2 separate regions of the Homo sapiens genome follow, and region 2 is linked to region 1. A link means that fine-mapping ties the variant in region 1 to the expression of a gene that starts in the linked region. Tissue or cell type: tibial nerve. Region 1 holds a variant in brackets; the other region holds the start of a gene. All regions are shown on one strand. Distances are between the middles of the regions.

Region 1 (10,822 bases):
GAGGTCAAACTAAACCAGCCTGACCTAGTGGAGCTCAAATCAAGCTCTAAGCAGTTTCTTCCACTGGGCGCTTTCTCATCCTTGGAAACTCGCCAAGTGGAGATAATAATGGCATTAGTGGGTTGCGTGAACATGTATGAAGTCTTAGGACAGCACCTAGGTAGGGGGCAGGTGCCTCAGCCATTCTTGTTCCTTTCCTCTTGGTACTTTCAAATCCACGTGTATTCGAAAGCAATGGGAAGTGTTTGTGTAAACCGTGAAGAAGTCTCCAAAAGCATGGGTGGTTAAAAACCAGCACCCTAGCGTAAGGGAGACTGTGCAGTGATGGTAGTGGAGGGCTTTACCACAGAGGAGGTGCAGGCCTTTCTGTTGTTTGAAGTGGCTTGGGTGGAGTCTGGCCCGGAGGCAGGGGGCTCCCTGCAAGGACCTCTCAGGTTCCCTTTTAGTTGGGCCCATCTGAAGGTTGCAGAGAAGACACAGAGGGGTGGAGTATAAGCGACCCGTGGGCTTGTTTTTGCTAGTTTTCTGGGTGCAGGGCTTGCTCCTCCTGGCACTGGTCCTTCCTGGGGCCCTCGGCTCCAGCTTGTTAGTTTTAACTGGAACAATTTCCTTTGAACTCAGTTTGAATGAGCATCACCATGGCGATGGATCAGGGTTTTCACAAGTCGACCTGGTCTTCACCCCTTAAGCAATTAGTTCGAAGGAGAAAAGGAGAAAGAGGAGGAGGGAAGAGGGGAGGTGGGGGAGAAAATGGAAAGGAAGGGAAGGGGAGAGGAGGAAGAGGAGGAAAACTGGAGAAAGAGAAGTAATGAGGAAGGAGAAGAGGACGACACAGGAAAGATGAGGAGGAGGAGGAGGAGGAAGGTAAGGAGGCTGGGGAGGATGTGGCAGGAGGAGGGAGAAGGTAGGAAGTAGAGGAGAACCATTCTGCCAGGCTAAGCCCAGGGGCCTAGAGTACTCCAGAGGCCCTTGACCTTCCCAGCCTTTCCCACAGCCCCACCTACTGGGAGAAGCCAGAGAAGCAAAGGAACCAGATCTTTGACCTGCAGCCTGAGAGGAAGGACACTGTTCCAACTTTCTGCAGGGTCACCCAGGAGCCTGCTCATGAGCAGTCAGCACCCAGGCGACAAGCCCACCTTCATTCAGCCTCTTTCTCCTGCAAGACCAGGCTAGGAGGACACAAGAGCAGGGGCTTCGAGTCTGAGAACTGAGGAGAGGTGGCGGGTCCCCTAGGTACTTGCCCTAGAACCTTGGGCAAGCCAGCAGCCTCTGTCAAATGGCAAGGATGGCTCCTCTTCCTTGGGTTCAGGGAAGGAGTGTCAAGTGAGAAGGCTGGTTGCTCACAGGGGTTCTGTGCACTCCGAGAGCCCTGGCACAGACTCCACATGGTCTCCAGGGGCTCACTGCTTGCCTGCTTGTCAGCTCTCTCACTTGGCTGGGAGCTTCAGGGAGGCAGTGACTAGGTCTTCATCATCGTTGAATTTCTAGACACTAGCACAATGCCTGGCATGTTACATAGGCAATAAGTATTTTTCTGATGAATTAATGATTGATGAATTATTGTTATTTTTCCCAAAAATGGGTGGCAAGACTGGGGAAAGGAGACTAGCAAGCCTGAACCCACTAGAATTTGATAGAGATGAGATCTCCCTTTCTTCAGGACTCAGTATGTCCCCATGTCCTCCAAGAGGCCCTCCTGGATTTGCCACCCCGCGCCCCACCTCCCCAGACCCTTCACTCTAGAGCCCCACTGTGTTCCATGGCCCCTGCCATCATCCCCATCATCATGCAGTATAATCATTGATTCGCTCATCCATTTCCCCAGCTAGGTCAGCTCCATGAGAGAGGGACTATATCTGGTTCCCCAGGTCCTTGCACACTCCAGGCACGGAGCTGATGCTCTAACCATGTTTGTAAATACACGGACCTGAGTATTCCAGCCAGGGCCAGGTGTCAGGCTTTCTGAGGCCAGTAAAGGCAGTGCCTGGGGGAAACAAGCCTGTGAATGGAGGGCTCACCACACAGCATGCCAAGTGGAAAACAGGCCGGGAGAGGATGGGGGCTCCGGAGAGCTATCACTGATATCTACTCTACAAATGACTGAGGAGGAGAGGTGTTTCCTAGGCCGCCAGCCAGAACTCTGGCTATGAGATATGCCGAAAAGATTTAGGTTAGAAATCAGAATGACAGCCGGGCATGGTGGCTCATGCCTATAATCTCAGCACTTTGGGAGGCTGAGGCAGAAGGATCACCTGAGGTCAGGATTTTGAGACCAGCCTGGCCAACATGGTGAAACCCTGTCTCTATTAAAAATACAAAAATTAGCTGGGCATGGTGGCAGGCACCTGTGTCGTCACTATCTCCATCTGTCTTCAGAACCGTCCTGCTTCTCCCTCTCTGTCCCCACTTCTTACCCTTTGGCTCCTGTCTGTTTCTCCTTTCGCTCTTGTAACCTCCCTTCCCAGCCCTCACCACTGCTCCAGCCTCTTTTCCCAAGTCCTGCCTTGGCCTCTCTGCCTCTCCCTCCCTCCCCTTTCCTCCTCTGCTGCTCATTATAAAAAATAAATATTTCTAAATACGCCAAAAATGCACTCATCCCCCAAGGACCCCTGTCTAGCACAAAGGGCTGGTTCTTTCTGGCTGCTCCCTGTGGCCTCCTTCTTGCCCACTGCCTTTGAATCGTGGCCTCATTCACATGACTGGAAGGGCTAACAGGGCATTTTCCCACGTGTCCGGGTGGGGAGGAGGACAGGGTCGGGGTGGTAAGTTGGATGAAGGAGGGTGGAGACAGGCAGCTGAGAATCTTCCCAAAATTTGGCTCATCCTCAGGGGAAACAAACTGCTTACTTGATATCATGACTAACTCCTTGGAACCTACAGGATCCATTAGCGATGCGGGAAAGATTCGGGTTAGAAATCAGAATGACCATGCAAACCATGAGGACAGCCACCATGTGGAATGTTTGGTCCCCATGGCACAAAGATTTGGGCTTCTTCCTGGGATGAGTTGGGATCCCTTTGGCATGGAGGCAGAGGGGGGGCTCCGTGATTCCTGGGAGACCCTCTGGATGTGAGCACCTCTGAGATTCTGGAGGGAGCCCAGGGCTCCCTGTGCTCTGTCCTCCCACCCCACACCCCACCCTATGCTCTCTGCTCTCTGGTCAAGTCCCTGGTCCGCGGGAGCACTGACCTAGAGTGTGGAAGCTCCTCCCCTTGAAAGCTGGGCTGACCTTGCTTCAGCTGAGTCCAGGAGAAAACACACATCTGACACACCCCAGGGCTGGGGGAAGGGAGGCAGGAGCAGAGGAGGGGAGCATCCAAGGTCCTGAAGTTCCAGAAGGAGTCCAGCCTTCTCACAGAGCCTGAAGCATAGGCATGGGCAGAGCGGGTGCCGGACCTCCAAATGGCTCTCCCTCTGCACTGTGGAATCACTCCCGCAGGAGGCAGGTGGTGGGAGAAGGCCTTGGCCTCAGCATTCCCCTGCCCTTGTGTCCTCCTGTTCTGAATTTCCTAATCTCTTTCCTGCATGTCCCCTCAACAACCTCCCCTCCCCTCCCTTCCCCACCCCACACCACAGCAGCTGGGCTGCTGGAAGTCGGGAGTGTTTATGAGTTAATCAAAAACTCCTGTACTTTGCTCTTGAATTGAGGCCATCATTCCTTTGTCCCAGGGCAATGGGGTCAGTTTGATCTCTCCTGGCTTAAATAGTGTGTAGCAAAGTAAAAGGGAAAAGTGGGGGAAGGAGAAGGGAATTTAAATTTATCAAGGGCCCCCTGCTAAACATCACGCCCTGGGCTGGGTGCTCTGCAGAGACCAAGCTCACAGCCGTGCTAGTAGCTGGGTGTTTCCATGTTACATTGAGGAAACCAAGTTGCAAAGACTTAAAGAAACCTGCCTCAGATCTCATAAATATGAAGGAAAGTGCTTTGAGGCTTCCAGTAGAGTTTGGAGGGTGTTCCTAACCCAAGATTGGGTTAAAAAATTCCATGATTGTCCACAGAATATGGACAGAAAGCTGAGAATAGCTGTGATGTTCCAGCTTGGAAAGAAGTGGGGGGTGGGAAGGGCTGAGAGGAGGCAGGGGCTGCATGCAGACTGGGCTCCTATCCAGAGGAAGAGCCCCAAGGGGGATTGGGAAGGCTTGTGAGGTTGGAAATTATGGATGGAGGGGGCTAAAGAGGAGGCCTAGAACTCCCCACTCCAAGAGCCCTGGAGAATCCCGGTCTGGCCTGAGAAGATCAGGAGTTTGGGATAAATTGCTAGAGAGGCCTTGTCCTCATGTGGGCCAAGTAAGCCCTTAAAATGGGTGCCCAGCAAAGCAAGGGGGTCTGAGGTGGCCCAGCTCTGTCCCTGCTCCCCACAGACACCTGCTACCCTGGGCATCCTACAGCTGCACTCAATCTGCCCCTCCTTCCTTCCTAGGCCTTAGGAAATATCTGTTCATTTTGTTTCTTTCCACTTTCTCTCTCCCCTTCTTCCTGTCTCCCTTCATCTGCCTGCTCCTCCCCAATCTGTCCTGAAGAGTACATTTCTTTCCCCATCAGGGAGCCTTGTGGGAATCTGGGGGGCCTGGGGCTGAGGAAGAAGAGACTTCAGATCCAAGAGCAGCCCTGAA[G/A]GATTGAGGGAGGCAGAAGGGGTGTCAGCCACTGGGCAGAGGAGTTCCTGGCAGCAGGGAGGGCCATGAGATAATTAGCCCTAGAGCTTTCTAGGCCTCTGGAAAGATGTGGGGTACAGGAACAGAAGGGAAGGAAGAGGCAGGTCAGGACTGGGGGAACTCAGGTTCCCTGGCCTGCCTGACAGAGACAGCACATGGTAGAGTTGAGAGGGGAGCCAGGGTCAGGGACAGGGCAGGCAATGGGAAAGAACAGGGACATTCCCAGGCTCAGGAGTCCCCAGGTCTCCCAGGGGAGGGTAGTCCTCGCCTGAGGTTAGGTGGCGGGCCCCGACTGGCTGGGAGTGGGTTTCTGTACGTGGCTGGAGGTGAATCACACCTTCTGTGTGGGTTGCATGTTTATATGTGGGTGTGCCGAGTCAGCATGCGTTGTCCTGCGTGTCTGCTGGTGTATGTAGGTGTTACTGGTGGGTGACAGGTCAAGGGTGTGCCCTGGTGAAGCGGGAGGGTGCCTGTGTGTGTCTGTGGGCCTCTAGACCTGAGGAACCATGCTTGAGTTTGTTCTCAGAATGTGCTGGCATATCTGTGTGCCACGTGTCCCTTTCTCTGTCTCTGTGTGTCCTACTGAAATCGGCTGTGTGCAGGAGTGTGTCTGCGTATGTGGGTGTGTTTGTGCAGGGGCCAGGGAAGGGTTATTCATAGAAGCAAGAACTGACTCTGGTGGGACACTCGTGCAGAGATGGGGAGGCACGTTGGGTGGGTAGGTGGGGGGCAGGCACTGTGTACACCAACGTGCTCCGAATTCCAGCAAACTCCAGTGCCTGAGTTTCCAGCTGTCCCAGCTCAACTGTGCACAGATGTGTGCCGCTTTGCTACAGCCATAAACAGACCTCCCAGGATTTTTCCAGAGGAAACGCAGAAATATTTTGGTGTCTGCTCTTGGTAGTAGGAAAGAGAGTGGGGATGAGGCTTGAGGCTAGGGCTTCGAAACAGAGGGACCACAGTCAGAGGGGAGCTGAAGAGGCAACAGCATCCCCCACAGGCCAGCAGGGTGGGGGAAGAGCTGTGATGGCTTCCAGTTGTGGGGTCCTCTCTAAGGCCCCAGCTAGCAGCTGGAAAGTGAAGTCCCAGTTGCCAGTGTAGGGGCAAAGAAGGAAAGCTTCCCCCTTCACCCTCTGAAGGTTTGCAGAAAGTGAGCTGACAAAAAGCAGATCAATAGAAAAAAGAGGTAAACGGATGTTATTTAACATGCATAGCACAGGGGTATGGCGGGAGAATGATTACCCGATAACCCAGAGAGGTCCAGGTGCTTGTAAACCCTTCTTTATAGTGGAAAGAGACAAGGTGTTACAGGCATAAATACTTTTATGGTGGGGGATGAATGGAGCCAGGAGGCAGGCATTATCTTGTGAATGATTCTTTTTGGAAACTGAATGGGACCAGAGAACAAACAATAGTTTGAGACACAGTTTGGGCTCTAGATGTGGTGTTTCGTGATCAGTCTCTTCCTCTGTGGTAGGAGTTTTCATCTCCTCTGATTAATGAAATTTCAGGAGAGGGATCGAAGGCAATTCTGCTCCTGCTTGGGAGTCCAGTTTCCAGTTCGATATGGGAGCTTCAGAAGACAGCCTCATCCTGTGCTTTGGGAGAGACAGGGGCTTTTGTGGGAGGTAGGTCAGAGAGACCTGGAGGCTGCTTCTTCAATTCAGCATGTCAAAGTGCCATCTTTGTGGGTATCATTTTCTGAGCCCTAATACCACAGATGCTGGCCCCCCAGAGCCCAGGCCACTGCTGCTCCACCCTTCCCTGTCCCCCAACCCCACGGGCTGTACCACAGATACACACACACCCCCACCACCACCAGCCCACCACTCAACATCCAAACACACAAAGACACTACACAAACCAGCCACCCTGCACGCACCTCACCACCACATTCACATACGCACTCACTTGTTCTCTCACACATCCTATGCCCACAGTTCTAGGACCACAGTCACAGACACCTCACAAACACCTCACTGCACACATGCTCTGAGCCATACACCCTGGCACAATGCACACCGACCCCACCTCACCCCACGCCCCTACACACAGGTCCAGACTTCCCCAAGCCAAGGAAGGGGCATGACACTCTTCTTAGGCCTCTCATCAGAGCAAAGTCTGTAAAGGTTTAGAAGAGTGTGAGGTGTTCCTGTCCAACAGGATTACCTTGGTGAGTTGAACCCACCCACCACCTCCTGCCCTGGGCATAAATTCTCCCATTCAACTATACCCCTTCCTCTGTCCCTCTCCAGGGAGAAAAGTGGCCTCTTCTCAGCAGGTGACCCTGGGGATGGGCCCCGGCTGCTCTTTGCCCTCTGAGGTAGGAGATATCCTTGCACATTTTCTCAGCAAACTCTTATTAACCAGCTACTCTGTGCCAGGGAAGTGCCGGGGAAGTGGGAGGCAGGGGCTGAAAGAGGTGCTTTCTCCACCCTTAAGGAACTTACAGCCCAGCAGCAAGGATGACCATGGACTGTGCTGCAAGCCACTCCACACCCTGCAAGGGAGCGGAATAAAGTGCTCTGGAGTCCAGTGGTGGGAGAGAACACTGCCAAGCTGAGAAGGCAGGCAGGCTTCCTGGAAGAGGTGACATGTGGGCAGGCTTTGACCAATGGGCAGCATTTACCTGTGAAGGCCATGGGGGTAGGGAGAATTCAGCCTCACTCCTACCCACAAAGCTCTCTAGCACCAGGAACCAGTTTCATGAAAGACAATGTCTCCACGGATGGGAGGGCAGGAAGTGGATGGTTTGAAGATGAAACTGTACCACCTCAGATCATCAGGAATTAGATTCTCATAAGGAGTGTGCAATTCGCAATAGGGTTCACATCCTTTGAGAATCTAACGTTGAGGAGCATGGGCGGTGGGGGAACCCCTGCTGTAGCACATCATCTTGTTTTATTGTATTCATAGCACTTATCTGAATTTATCTTGTTTATTTGAATATCTGTTTTCTTTTGTCTCCACCTCTACAACGTAAGCTAAAGCCTCCTGTGTCTTGTCCACCACACTTAGTGACTGTGTCCCCAGCACTTAAAACAGTGTCTGGTGCTCTTTAAAGGGAGGAAGAAAGGGAGACAGGGAGGGAAGGAGGAAGAGAGAGAGAGAGAGAGAGAGAAGGGAGGCAGGGGAAAAGCTCACCTGCCAAGGCACAGGACCTGAAGGCCAGTCTGGCAGGAAGAAGATGATGGCAGGCCTTGAATACAGGTTGAGGAAGGTGGACTCAACATTTGCCAGTGGGGAGCCATGAGGTTTATGAGCAGGGCAGTGATGCATACAGGCCAGTGGTCCCTGGGCCAGCCATTTATGCTGCAGAATCTCCTTGACTATGAAACATATGGGTCTCTGATTTAGCCAATTGACAGGTAAACTCTACCTAGTCACAGGATTCAACCATGACCTTTGGCAGTATAGGTACATACATAAACCTATTATACAGCATTTTAGCTTACATTGTAGGGGTGGGGCCGGCCAAACACAGATGTTCAGATAAACAAAATAAATTCACATATGCCTTCTCTCCTTAGCTTCACCCTCAGACCATCCCACAGAAATAGGTCCTAGATGGAAACAGCTTATGGTACAAAAGTCATGTCTTTGAGAAAACACATTTGCATGGAACAGCCATACCATTACCTTTCTCTAAAGCACACACGGAGGACAGTACGGCATGCAGAATGGAGAGGGAAGTGGCTAGATCGCTCATACCTTCCTAGGAGCCCCCTTCTACCCTTTCGAAGTGGACCAAGCCAGTGCCTAGTGTCTCACCCTTGCTAAAGAATAGCTCACTTGATTTTAGGGCCAAAGAAGAGGGTGGTAAGGCCAGGCAGGGGCTGAACGAGAACCCTCTCGTGAGCTACCTGCCCACTTTCCAAAACTGAGCAGGACAAATGCAACGGGGAGGTTTCATTTTAAATGTTCTCCAGTTGGAGAAGGGCTTTAATCTCAACAACGAAGACTCGCCAGCCCTTCAGCCCCTGGGCCTAGGGCTGAAAGCTCTGGGCCTTCACGGAGAGGTCCACTGTCTGCAGAGTCCTGGCCATAGCTGGGAAGGAGGGATCCTGGGCTCTGGTCTTGACTACAGGACATCTGGTATCTCTGTTGGAGCCAAGTCGAATCAGATGCTCAGGCTCCTAGTGGGAAGGGGCAGAGCAGCAGAGAGATCTGACCTGGAAAGAGCATGTGGTGGGTGCAGGCACAGGGCTCTGGATGCAGGACTGCAGCCCTAACTCTACCGCAGGACAGCTCTGCTACCTTAGGCAGCTCCGTTACGCTTTCTGCACCACAATTTCCTCATCTGCAAAATGGAGAAATCATCACTCTGCCTACTTCAGAAGAGCACTGTGGGGATCAAATGAGCTGAAAGGGAGATGAAAGGAGTTTGCGCTGCACACAGGGAGATGATGAGGCCATGCCCTCCTCACTGTGGCACAGAACACGGTAGCAGGAGGGACTAGAAAGGCCCTGTACTCAGAATTAATTAGGAGGCTCTTGTTTCTTGATAACTGCCCAGGGCCTGAATCCCAGCCCCACTTCTCACCTGTAGGTGACCATGAACCAGACATCTCAGCCCTCTGGGAGGCTTGTCTTTGAAGCGGGAGGAGGGGAGGAGCTGGCTCCAGTGATTGCTAAGGTCCTGTCGAGCTCTGCATTTGTTCCCTGGAGCCTCCCTAATTTCCAGACTCTAAAGTTCTGAATTCTCCCTGCTGTCCCATCTTACTCTCAACCAAGGGGAGACCAGGGAGGAGGAAACTGGGCTCCCCCTGAACACACTGGCTGTCTGGCAGCTGAGAATGGCCTCAAGCAGGGAGAGAGGATGGGGCTTCCCAAGTGCTAGGGAGAGCAAAGGACCCAACTTGTGCTTACAACTGCTCCCTCTATGAACAGGCAAGAGATGGAGGCTGGGGGGCGGGGCCCAACCAGGGGGGCTGATTTGAACCCTGACTCCTCCTACTGCGTGTTTATTATTCTATCTTCATTTTCATTCATTTATGTGCTTGTGCAGCAAACATTTGTAGGGCCACTATTCTGTGCCAGGCACTGTCCTGGGTGTCGGGAATACAGACATGAGGACGTTCACAGCCTCGTGGGAGACGACAAGAGATGTAAACAGATGGTTCGCACATAGAGTGAGAAGCAGGGGGACAGGAGCTCTCCTGAGTACTGCATCCTGACTACTGGGTGCCACAGAGCACAAAGGAGGGTCCGCACCCAGCCAAGGGGGCCTCTCTCTCCTTAAACATCACAGTCAGCTTGCTGAGATGATGGGAAATACAGGAATCGCTTGGTGCCCAACAGCTTAAGGGGTGGTAAAGAAAAAACATCCAAGAGAAAGGTTCCTGGGTGGGATAATTAATGTTTTGACGAGGAGGAAAATATTAGTGTGTGTTGCTCAGCATGCAAACACCTCAACTAACAAAACGGCTCGGAGAAAACAAGTGGAACGGTGGGGTTTTTCTCACAAAGATTTTTTTTTTTTTTTTGAAAAAAAAGAAGAGAAGAGAAAAAGATGGCAGTCACAAATAACCTCCCGCAGCTGAAAGACATTCCCCACCGGGTGAGGAAAGCAGGGCCCAGCTCAGTAGAGAATCTTGCTGCTGCTCCTTCCTGCAGATGGCCGACCTGGCACTTAGACCCAGAGCCCCAGCTCCTGACCCACGCTGCCATTTCAAGGCACTCCTCCCAGTTGCTGAGGCAAGGGGGAGTTCTGCACACACCAGTTGAGCATTTTAAGGAAAAAGAGATGGCCGGGCACGGTGGCTCATGCCTGTAATCCCAGCACTTTGGGAGGCCGAGACGAGAGGATCACGAGGTCAGGAGATCGAGACCATCCTGGCTAACACGGTGTAAACCTCGTCTCTACTAAAAATGCAAAAAAATTAGCCGGACGTGGTGGCGGGCGCCTATAGTCCCAGCTACTCCGGAGGCTGAGGCAGGAGAATGGTGTGAACCCGGGAGGTGGAGCTTGCAGTTAGCCGAGATCGCGCCACTGCATTCCAGCCTGGGCGACAGAGCAAGACTCTGTCTCAGAAAAAAAGAAAAAAAAGGAAAAAGAGATTTTCCTGATTTGCTAGGGTGCATTCGGTGGTGCCACGTCTAGACAGCTGCCTCCTACCCCAAAGAGTATCTTCTCAGGGAAGGTTACATTGTCTCCGGCTCCTGTAC
Region 2 (10,822 bases), 24 kb after region 1:
TGAAAGTCATGGATCCAGCCCACCTCCATGACAACTTCCCTTCTGCCTGGTTTTTCTGCCCGAAAAGAATAGCTTCTCCATGCCTATCCCAGCCATCTCCACTTCTCTTCCCTTTCCACTCAGTATCCCCACCAGCTGTCTCTCCAATCCACTTTCCCACCACACCCTTGATGGATGGAACTGCATAATTGTGTGATGGCGGAAAGCTAATTTGTACTTCTGTGCTGGCAATGAAGTGTCTGGAGCTTTGCAATTGACATTGAGAAGCAGAGGGGATCCCTCACTCCATCCCTGGTTCTCCCTCAAACTCAAATCGCAAATCCTCCACTCTATCTGCAAAGGCCCAGAGACAAAGGGGCTGTAACCTAACCCAAACCAAACAGCCACTCACAGAAAGTCATGGGAAGAAAAAAATCTTTCCAGTCTTGCAAAGACAAGCACCTGGTGGTTCTCTCCCTGTCTCTCGGTAAAGGTCATTGGTTCAGTTTCCCTTTCCACCTCCTGCAGGGTCTTGTCAGCACCTGTTTTCTTGGGCACAGATTGGGAGATGGTTTGGTGTTTCTCTTCCTCCCAAATTAAGGCACACTCAGACCAAAAAGCAAAGGGAAAGTGCCTCCCGAGGTTTTGCTGCTATCCATTTCTCAGTTTCGGAGGTCTCAAGACACAGAAAACTTAGACACCTAAAGAGGATAGAGAGGAAGAAATATTTCTTTTTTATGTATTTATTTTTTTCTTTGAGACCAACTCGCTCTGTTACCCAGGCTGGAATGCAGTGGCACGATCTCAGCTCACTGCAGCCTCTGCCTCCTGGGTTCAAGCGATTCTCGTGCCTCAGTCGCCGGAGTAGCTGGGATTACAGGCGCCCACCACCACACCCGGCTAATTTTTGTATTTTAGTAGAGACGGGTTTTGCCATGTTGGCCAGGCTGGTCTCGAACTACTGACCTCAGGTGATCCACCCGCCTCGGCATCCCAAAGTGTTGGGATTACAGGTGTGAGCCACCGCGCCCAGCCAAAAAAATGTTTCTGAAAGAATATGTGTACATGCACGCGTATACATGTGGCAGGGGGTGAGAGGGAGAGACTTGTATAATCAGAGATTTAGTATGTGATACAATGGGAAAGAATAAACAGAATTAAAGGATAACAGCCACCATTTATTGGATCTGTACTATATGCCAAACATGTTGCGAAATATTTTATGCACAATGTTTCATTTAATTTTCAAAGCAACCCAGTGAGGGAGAAACGTATGCGCCCATTTTACAGTTGAAGAAACAGGCTCACTGACGCACAGCTCATGACTGGGGCCGAGCTCCAGGACTGAGATCCTGATGCCCATTTTCTGAACCACTACTGGCTACTGCTTTCCAAGGGCTAGAGATGAGAAAAAAAAGGAAATTGGTTTATGGTGTGGCAGAGGTCTTGCGATGAGACATGAAGAACTCTCTGACAATGAGGGCTGTTTGGTTGTAGTCGGAGTAATTAGGCTTGTTAGAGCTCTTCCTCTGACGGCCTTTACATTTAAGATGAATGGATGCTTCTATGCCCGGATGGTTTGAGGGAAACGCTGTCTGTTCCCAGCACGGGGCTGGCCTGTTTGAACTAGCTGACGGCTTCACTGGGGATACAGGATTGCCACACGCGAAACCGTTAGATAACAGGAGAAGATAGCGCAGGATGTGAGCCCCGAGTGGGACTGGCAGAAAGTGAGGGCTACCGACAGGCAGAGGCTACTGTGGTTCAAAGCAAGGGCTTTGTGGTCAGGCGGGCAGACTTGTGTTTGAGTCCCGGCTGGCTCTACTGCTTTTGTGACCTTGGGTATGTTGCCTAACCTCTCTAAGCTTTGGTTTCCTAGTCAGTAAAAAGAGCCTAAGAATAGAACCTACTTTGGAGGGATGCCATGAAAATTAAATAAGATGATCCATGTAAAATGCTTGGCACAGAACCTGGACATAATCAAAATACAATGGGGGAGGAGCTGCTATAATAATGACTATTGTTGGAGTCCAGAGGCCGGAGACAGTGGCACAGAACAGAGGGCTAGGTCGGTGGGGAGTCGAGAAAGTCTTCCTGGGAAACCTGAGTTTTGTCCTGGAGCTTGAAGAGGTGGTCAGGTGAAATCAATAGCAAGGCATAGAGATGTAGGTAGGCAGGGCTTATGTAATGGAGTGAGATTTCAAATGCCCTATCACTTTCAAAGAAAAATCTGGTTTGATCTGTGGTTGAAGTAGAGAAGGAAGTTGACTATGGGGAAGAGGTGGGAAAGAGATGAGGTCTTCCATCCTTGTTTCCAAACCCAAAATGTGAACAGAGACAAACCTCAGGGACCTAAACAAGAAATCTGACATCCAGGGCTTCTTTGCCCACTTCTGGGCTGTTGTGGGAGGAGAAGGGGTAAGAGCCTGGGAAATGGCTGAGGGCAGAGCTGGTGGCGGATGGGGACAGGACCTGAAACAAGGGAAGTTAGGAAATGTGGGCGAGGCCCTTAATGACTGTGTGGGCTGACTCATGTGGGAGACCTAGCTTCAAGGCCGCATGGAGATCCAGCATCCTGTCAGGCGGGAGGCCAATTTCAAGACCCTGGGCATCTCTAGTCTAAACGGTTGCCAGCTAAGAGTGGGAGTCCTTAGGGGAGCAATCCTTGTGCTAATCCAATTATTCCCTAACAGCCTGCCTTATCTCCCGGATGTGAAGATGAACTCCTTAGGAGCCAGGTTCTCCAGGAAGGATGCTGCTTGTTTCAGATGCTCTATGTTTTTGTTTTGTTTTGTTTTGTTTTGTTTTGTAGAGACGGAGTCTTCCTCTGTCACCCAGGCTGGAGTGCAGTGGCGCAATTTTGGCTCGCTGCAACTTCTGCCTCCTGGGTTCAAGCAATTCTCCTACCCCAGCCTCCCGAGTAGCTGGGATTACAGGCGCACGCCGCCACACCCAGCTAATTTCTTTTGTATTTTAGTAGAGACGGGATTTCACCTTGTTGCCCAGGTTGGTCTCGAACTCCTGAGCTCAGGCAATCCGCCCGCCTCGGCCTCCCAAAGTGCTAGGATTACAGGCATGAGCCACCGCGTCTGGCCCAGACGCTCTATGCTTAAACATCTGCCAAATACCTGCTGTCAACCACTTATGTCGAGCATCATGTGGGCCTTGTCAAAAATGCTAATCCTCAGTTCTTTTCCCTAGAATCTGATTCCATGGGTTTAGGGATTCGGGAATCTATTTTCTAACAAGCATCCAGGTGATTCTTCAGGAAAGGCAAATTTGGAAAAGGCTGACTTGGTAGTCTCTTAAATTCCCTTCAGTCCTAAATCTAGGCAGCAGAGAGCGGGTAGCGGGAAGGGCCCCTGGATGATAGCAAGAGGCCGATTCTAGCCGGACCCTGCAGTTCACATGGCCCTGTGCTGGGGAAGCCCTAGAAGGGAAGGAGGCTGCAGAGAAGGGAGTTTTCACCCATCAGTAATCAAGGTCCCAACAGAAGTGAAAATGGAAGTCAGGGAACAATTGGTTTTGAGCATCTTCGTGGGGCTTTTTCCCTTGCCTGGGACTGGCAGGACAGTGTAGGTCTGAGCAGCTTCCACGATACACACGGGGACACTTAAGCCCAAAGAATTTTTAAAACGTGCCTAAATTCCACAACTAATCAGAGGAGGCAGCAATCCAGATCTCCTGGTCTTCACCCTTCTTATTGTTGGGGTGCACCGCAGGGCACGCATGTTTCCTTGTGGCTTGTGGGAAAGCCACTGTCGTGGAGCGCCAGCGTCCCGAGTCCCTGGAAATTCTCCCAAGTGACCTGGAATCCAACATTTCCCTGGATTTTCATAGTCTATAATAGAGAGAAAGAACCGGGTCTGCGGTGGTGGGCAGGACTGAGGAAAGGCCGTGAATGCGGGAAGCACGGGAGGCAGGACTGAAAAGGAAAGAGGCACAGGGGCTCACAAAACCTGAGGGCCGCGTCCCAGTGGGTGACCTGACCCATCAAGGTCTAACACCTGGCCGTGGCAAAGCTGGGCGAGAACCCCCGATCCACCCTCCCAGTGTGGGGCAGGGAAAAGGCAGAGTGCAAAGCGAGGTCTGATTTTGCAGAAGCTTTTTAGAAATTCGCTGTCAGAGAAACTGAAAGACCAAACAAAACCCCTAAAAATCCAAGCCCGATTATTTCATCCACGTGGCACAAAAGCAAGCCAAAAAAAAAAAAGCGGGGGGGGGGGGTGGCGGTGCAGGGCGGGGGAAGAGTCACCCGTCCTGCCCCTGCTGGAAGGAAGGGATTTGCCCCGGGAGAGCAAACTTCTGACTCCGCCTGGGTCGCTGACTCCGCGCGGCCGGGCGGGAGGGAGGTCGAGGAGGCCGCTCGCACAAAGCCGCGGAGCCGCTGCCCCCTCTCCCCGCCCCCTGCCCGGCCAACGCCGAAGTGCGGAGAGCAGCCGCGGGCCCTTTAAGGGCCGCGAGGTGCGCGGTCTCTTTAAGGCGGGTCCTGGTGGTTTCTGTTTTCTGAAGGAAGTGACGGGGGGTGGGATTGAATGAAAAGTGCAAAACACAGGCTCGCAGCGCTGGAGCCCGGGGCCGCGGAGCCGGGCCGGGGCAGCGCCGTCTCCGCCTCGGGGCCGCCGGGGGCGCCCTGCTGAGCGCTACCCACGTGCGTCCGCGCCACCTCGCGGGCGACCCCGCGGCCAAGGCCCCCGGCGGAGCGGCTCCCGGGCGCCCCGAACTAGCCCCCAACTTTGGGCGAAGTTTGCCTGCGCCTCTCCCCGCCCCCACGCGGCGCGCCGGGGCCGCGGACGGCAGCGGCCCCCGGGGATGCGCCTTCCCGGGGTACCCCTGGCGCGCCCTGCGCTGCTGCTGCTGCTGCCGCTGCTCGCGCCGCTGCTGGGAACGGGTGCGCCGGCCGAGCTGCGGGTCCGCGTGCGGCTGCCGGACGGCCAGGTGACCGAGGAGAGCCTGCAGGCGGACAGCGACGCGGACAGCATCAGCCTCGAGCTGCGCAAGCCCGACGGCACCCTCGTCTCCTTCACCGCCGACTTCAAGAAGGTGAGGCGCCCTCACTCGCCGGGGTGGCACCTTCAAGCCTGAGCCCCCCGGGATCCCAGGCGCTCTCTTGCCTGCAGACGGAAAGACGGGCCCAGGAGGGAGACGCAGCTGGCCCAAGGTCACGCCGGGCTCTTCTCTACACCTCTTTGCCCACTCCCCAGGGCCCACCCCTTCATTCTCTCCAAAGAACCCCTCTGCTTCCCTTTCTCACTCCCTCCTCCAGCGCTCCCAGAGCCCCCCAGGTGCTAACCCTCCTCCAGAACTCCTACTAACGACTGGACTCCCTTCTTGGAGTCATTCCCCTGTGCTCTAGTGGGAAAGTCCTAGGCGAAGTGTTCTCGCTGTGGGCTCTCACTGTGGGTTCTCCCTGTGTGATCTAGAGCAAGCAAGCCTCTTTCCTCCTATGGGCCTGGCTTCTCACCCCTGTACAGGGCACTGAGGGGTCTGCGAGGCCTCCCAGCCCTGACATTTTGGAGTCCCTCTGTCACCTCTCCCTCTGTTTCACTTTTCTGGGGAGAGCTGGTTGCCCCTGGTCCCTCTCAAGCCGGGAGAAGCCCTGTCTCCTCTTTGGTCTGGAAGGCTGGGGCGCTTGCAGCAGGAGGATCCTGGAGAGAGACCCCAGCTGAGGCCCCCTCCCTCTGGGAGAAGTGCTGCCCTTCACTCTGCCTGGCAGAGAAGCGAGCCAACCCCCCTATTTTGGCCCAGATTAGGGTTAGGGAGTTAGAGACCAGCCCGGTGGGTGGGTGGGTGGGTGGGTGTGGGTGTGTGGGTGTGTGTCCCAGATTACGGTTTGGGAGTTAGAGACCAGCCCGCTCTTGGTGTGTGTGTGTCTGTGTTGGAGGGAATAAGAAGGGCCTTGCACCCAGGGGGCTGGGGGATTATCAGGAAATGGGCCTGGATGGTGAGTGACTAACAGTGACCCAGCAGCAGGAAAGCTGGAGGAAAAGAGGGTGGGTAAGTCTTAGGTATTCAAAAGGAGCGTTCTGTCTCCTTCCCCCAGCTAAAGAGAGGCCCTGTGAGGCTCTGTCCCTGGGGGAGTGCAGGGGTGAAGCCGATTAGATAGCTGGGGGAGCCCGGGGCCCCGGGGACCCTTGCTGAAGCTGCCTGTCTTTCCTCCCTCGTAGAGACAGGGCGCTTTAGAGGAGAGGTGGCGGAGTTTGGGAAGTCAGTTAGGGACCCAGCCAGATTGCCATAGTTAGCAGGGGTGAGGGGTTAGGCTTGACCGCTAGAGGTGGGTGGGGTTGGGGGGTGAGGCTTGACCGCTGATTGCCCCAGGGCCACGGAGTTGGCACTGACATTGGACATAAGCAGGCAGATGGGGGGTGGGGTAGTGAGCGTTCACAAATGGGAAGACTTTGTAGCCCATCCTTACTCCGCAGGCCTAAGCTAGGCACCCTGCCTCCCCACCTAAACCCTAGGAGAATTTTATCAAGTGTGTTCTGTTCCTGAAAAATCTATGTTAGTGGCTGGATCCATCAGGAATCGGGGATCTAATCTTCTGTCCAAGCCCTTTGTCCTTGAAAGTTAGCCTTAGGCCAGGCTGTGAGGCTCCCAACCCCCTGCCCACTGGATGTCATCTTGTGGCTGCACTAGAATCCTGCAGAGAGACTTCCCTGGCTGTGGCCAGGACAGTGAAAGGCAATGGGTAGGGCTGAGCTTTTATAGCCTTTAGCTACATCTGGAAGGTTTTTATTGCTGTGATCTGAAGGGAGAGGCTAAGAAGTACCCAGGTAGCTGTGATGTGCTGGCAGTAGTGGCTGATGGCGGGGGTGGGGTGCTGGGGATTGGAGTGAGGGTATGCTGGTCATCTGACTGCCCAGTTAGAAAATGCATCTGGAGATTGTGAGCACCTCATTTGAATCTCTACAGTGGTTCAGACCTCCACCCAGGTTTCTAAAGTCTGATTTTCAGGTTAGCCTCTGACCCAGAAGCTACCATTTCATACCCACCTCTGGCATCTCCAATTTCATCAGCAAGGGAGGGAATTGGGAGTGGAAGACACCGAAAGGAAACCAGCTTTCCCAAGTCCCTTTAACTCCAGGTTTCTCCATTGGCCTAGGACGGGGTGGAGTTGGAGAGTGCAGTGTGGGGGAGAATAGCCTTACCCTCACCCAGGCCACTCACTCACTGCCTGCACTGGCCACAGCAGCTTCTATGTCCAGATCCTTCTAGGGTGGGTCACCTCTCAGTTCTCAAGGCCCCATGCCTCATAGTGTTTGTCAGATTTCCATAAGAAAGTTTGGTCTAGAAGGAATGATTTTTCCTATAAGAAAAAGACTTCGGCTCGGTGTGGTGGCTCACATCTGTAATCCCAGGATTTGGGGAGGCTGAGGCAGGCTTATCGCTTGAAACCAGGAATATGAAATCTTCAGGCCAAACGAGACCCCTGTCTCTACAAAAAATTTAAAAATTAGCGGAGCACGCTGGTGTGTGCCTTGTAGTCCCAGCTATTCAAGGAGGCTGAGGCAGGAAAACCACTTGAGCCCAGGAGCTGAGGCTGCACTGAGCTGCAATTGTACTACTGCACTCCAGCCTGGGAAGTCACGCTTTTTGTGTTTCTTGTACCAAACTCATTTGCAGTGATTTGGGAAAAGTCCTCATCTACTTGGGAAGAGCCTTGTTTGCCATTTGATCACGTTGGGGAGAACAGTCCAGACTGAATGAGACAGACTTGGTTTACCACTTATTAGCAGGTTCACCCTGGGCAAGCTACTTGATCTCTCCAGACCTTCATTTCTTCATCTATAAAATGGGGATAATAATAGCACATATCCCACAGTTAGTAGTGCCTATGACATCCTTACTCTGTATTAGATACTGTGTTAAGGGCTCAAGACATAGGAGCTGTTAGCTTTGCAATTGTGGCTCACACAGCATTTCAGCAAGGATCCTCTCTGCTAAACTTGGACTCAAAGACATTGAACAACGGACCCAAGGTCATGCAGAAAAGTCAGTACTGAGCCTGGAGGATCCTTGAGCTCTTCATCTTAACCTTCTCCTTGAAGTGCCAAAATTGCTGGCCAGCCCCTCAGAGCAGGAGCAGCCATCCTTGTCCTGACAGTCCACCCAGGGCAGCAGTGAGCCTCCCTGTGTGGGATGGGACCAAGGCTTCTGTCTGATTCCCAACCCTATCCAGCCCCCTCTCTCCAGCCCTTCCCACCTGTTTGCCTCTACCCGCGTCAGAGTTCTGACAGTCTAACTCTCTCCCACACTACTGCTCTGGACCTTGACGCAGCAAAGCAGTCACAGTCGTCAACCCACTGGAGGACACATAGCCTGGAGCCCAGGTGAGGCTTGCAGACTCAGTAGCTTGGAGCTATCAGATGGCCATCCTGCATTACTGCAAGCCCTGCCCAGAGGCTGAGTGAAGGCCATCAGGCTGACCGAGCCACAGCTCTGAAAGAATGCCGCAGCTCAGTGGCTCCCAGCTTTGCCGCACCTCACAATCACCTGGGGAGCTTTGAAAATTCCCACTGCCTGGGCTGCACACCCTACCAGTGAAATCAGAATATCTCAGGGTGGGAGTCAGGCAGCAGTCGTTTTGGTTTTGTTTTTTCTTTTAAAGAACCCAGGTGATGTAATCCCAGCACTTTGGGAGGCTGAGGCAGGCGGATCACAAGGTCAGCAGTTCGAGACCAGCCTGGCCAATATGGCGAAACCCCGTCTCTACTAAAAAATAAAAAATAAAAAAAAATTAGCTGGGCATGGTGGCATGCACCTGTAGTCCCAGCCACTCAGGAGGCTGAGGCAGGAGAATCGCTTGAATCCAGGAAGCGGAGGTTGCAGTGAGCCTGGATCGCGCCACTGCACTCCAGTCTGGGTGACAAAAGAACCCAGGTGATTCCAGTGTGCAGCAAAGTTTGGGAACCACTGGCGCAGTTGCTCTAGGGGAGGGGAGGGGACCTGGAGAAGGAGCCAGCTCAGGTTAAATGAGGGTAGGGCCCAAACTCAGTCACATATTTGAAACCTGTCATCTTACCCACACTAATCCTAATGTGTTTTGAGCAGCACATATACTTCGGGCCTAATGCTGTGTGCCCTCAGTACACAAACTAATTCACAGCGCGCCCTTGGTGGGCAACACTCTCCTTTATACTCCACATCCTATGGGTGTAATTAGCCCTGGATGTACATAATCACTGGCATATCTAATCATAGGTGTGTCACCATCCCCTCTCCCTAAACTGGCTATTTGACAGCCCTTCTGGTCTACCTCCTGGAAGCTGGTATTCTTGCCAGTTTCTCTTTCACCTCTGTCCCCTAGTCCGAGTGGCCAAAAGCTGGGAAGAGGATGAGTCACGCTCCAGGCTGCCTGCCTTGGGGCTGACCGGATGGGGAGGGTGATACTGACAGATATGAAGAAGGTCATGTGTGATGGCATCACGGTGGTGGGCGGTGGGGGTCCCTTTCCCCTCCCAGCATCAGGGAGGATAGGGAGACACAGACTCCAAAAGTGTGGAAGGAGGGGATCCTGAAGGCCCACAGCTGGAGCCCTGGAGGGAATAAGCAAGATAAGGGGAACTGTACAGCTGTGTGGGTCAGCTCAGGGCCGCTTCGAAGGGACAAGGACCCATGGAGGATGGAAGCTTGAGCCCTGTCCTGGGCACTGATGAGTGAGTGGGAGCCAGAGGAAGGGATAGTCCAAAGAATGCTAGGGCCCCTGTGCCGGGGGGCCTGGTCTGTGGGTGGGGGAGCAACATGGGAAGCCTTGAGGTGCAGTCAGTAAAGATGTGGAATGTGCAATGTCCACGTTGCCACCTAAGAACGTGTATCCCAAGGAGATATCACAGCACATAGATGTGGGACCGAGAAGCTTTCAGGGCCCAGTCTGCCCCTACCCTGTCTGTGTTAGCACCCTTAAGATTTGGCGTGGAAGCATCTGATGGATGGAAAGTCTCCTTGGGGAGGAAAAGGCAGTGGAGGTGCTTTCGGGAGAGGCCCAGACTTTTCTGGAGCTCAGAGCATTTCCTCACAGGTATTTACAAGAAGTCGCCAGATGGAATGACCAGGCTCACTGACATGGGGCTCCTGGGTCTAATATCTGTCCCTCCTCTGCGTGTGAGGAATTCCTCCTCAGATCAGGATGGCCAGCCCTGCCTGAGGGTTCAGACCCCCTCCCGGGAGCTTGGCCAGCATCTCCCACCCCTGAATGCTATGTCCAGGTGGAGTCCTAGCAAAAGATCCCGGTAGGCCATGAAGACTGCCACCTGGGATAATGGAGGATCCTGCTGGGAAGCTGGTGGGGAGAGTGAGTTAGTTCCCTCCCAGGCTTCCCAAGGCACAGAGAGGTGGTGGAGATAAACTTAGGACAGACTCCTGTTCCGCTGGCGGAGGGCCCAGCCTTGAAGTGAGGATTGCATAGGGTCTGGAGATCACCCATTGAGCAGTCCCTCATGTCACACATGCTCTTATCTGATCGCCTGGAGCTCTCAAGTGAGGCTGACAAGATGAAGCAGCTGATGATCCCAGATTAGGACCCAGGGTTCCTTCCAGTATATCCTGACTGCCTGTCTGCCATGGTACCATGAGTGGGCTCCTTCCAGTAGGCTAAAGAACCCTGGGGAGGGAGGTGGAGGGGAGAAGGAGGCTGGAAAAAACCTTGGTGCAGAGGAACAAATCCACAGAGACCCTCGTTTGTACAGACTTGGGCTGGACCACTTCCCCCACGCTCTTACCTCCAGTGGATGGAGTGTTGGCTACTTGGCCATGCCTGCAACTCCTCTCTCCCCTGCATGGCCTCTTGGGGAGCTGGGTGAGGGGGATGAGTTTGGAAAATATCTCACCAAGGCCAGGTGTGGTG

Evidence for each region. PIP is the estimated chance that this variant, and not a neighbour inherited with it, causes the effect.
Region 2: OAF starts here. The variant in region 1 is fine-mapped to the expression of OAF in tibial nerve (GTEx, PIP above 0.99).

What each region holds. Positions count from the first base shown.
Region 1 is chr11:120,182,020-120,192,841 of GRCh38, forward strand. LOC124902773 (a long non-coding RNA gene) reads right to left here and starts at 3,579. Exons shown (of 2, transcript XR_007062923.1): 1 at 3,231-3,579. LOC105369530 (a long non-coding RNA gene) reads left to right here and starts at 4,174. Exons shown (of 3, transcript XR_948101.2): 1 at 4,174-6,827; 2 at 6,910-6,977; 3 at 7,097-9,252. The variant G/A (reference allele first, on the strand shown) is at 4,616.
Region 2 is chr11:120,206,489-120,217,310 of GRCh38, forward strand. OAF (out at first homolog) reads left to right here and starts at 4,544. Exons shown (of 4, transcript NM_178507.4): 1 at 4,544-5,022. The coding sequence starts at 4,792. RefSeq lists an enhancer at 3,297-3,838 and silencers at 4,172-4,431, 4,612-4,661, 4,752-4,861.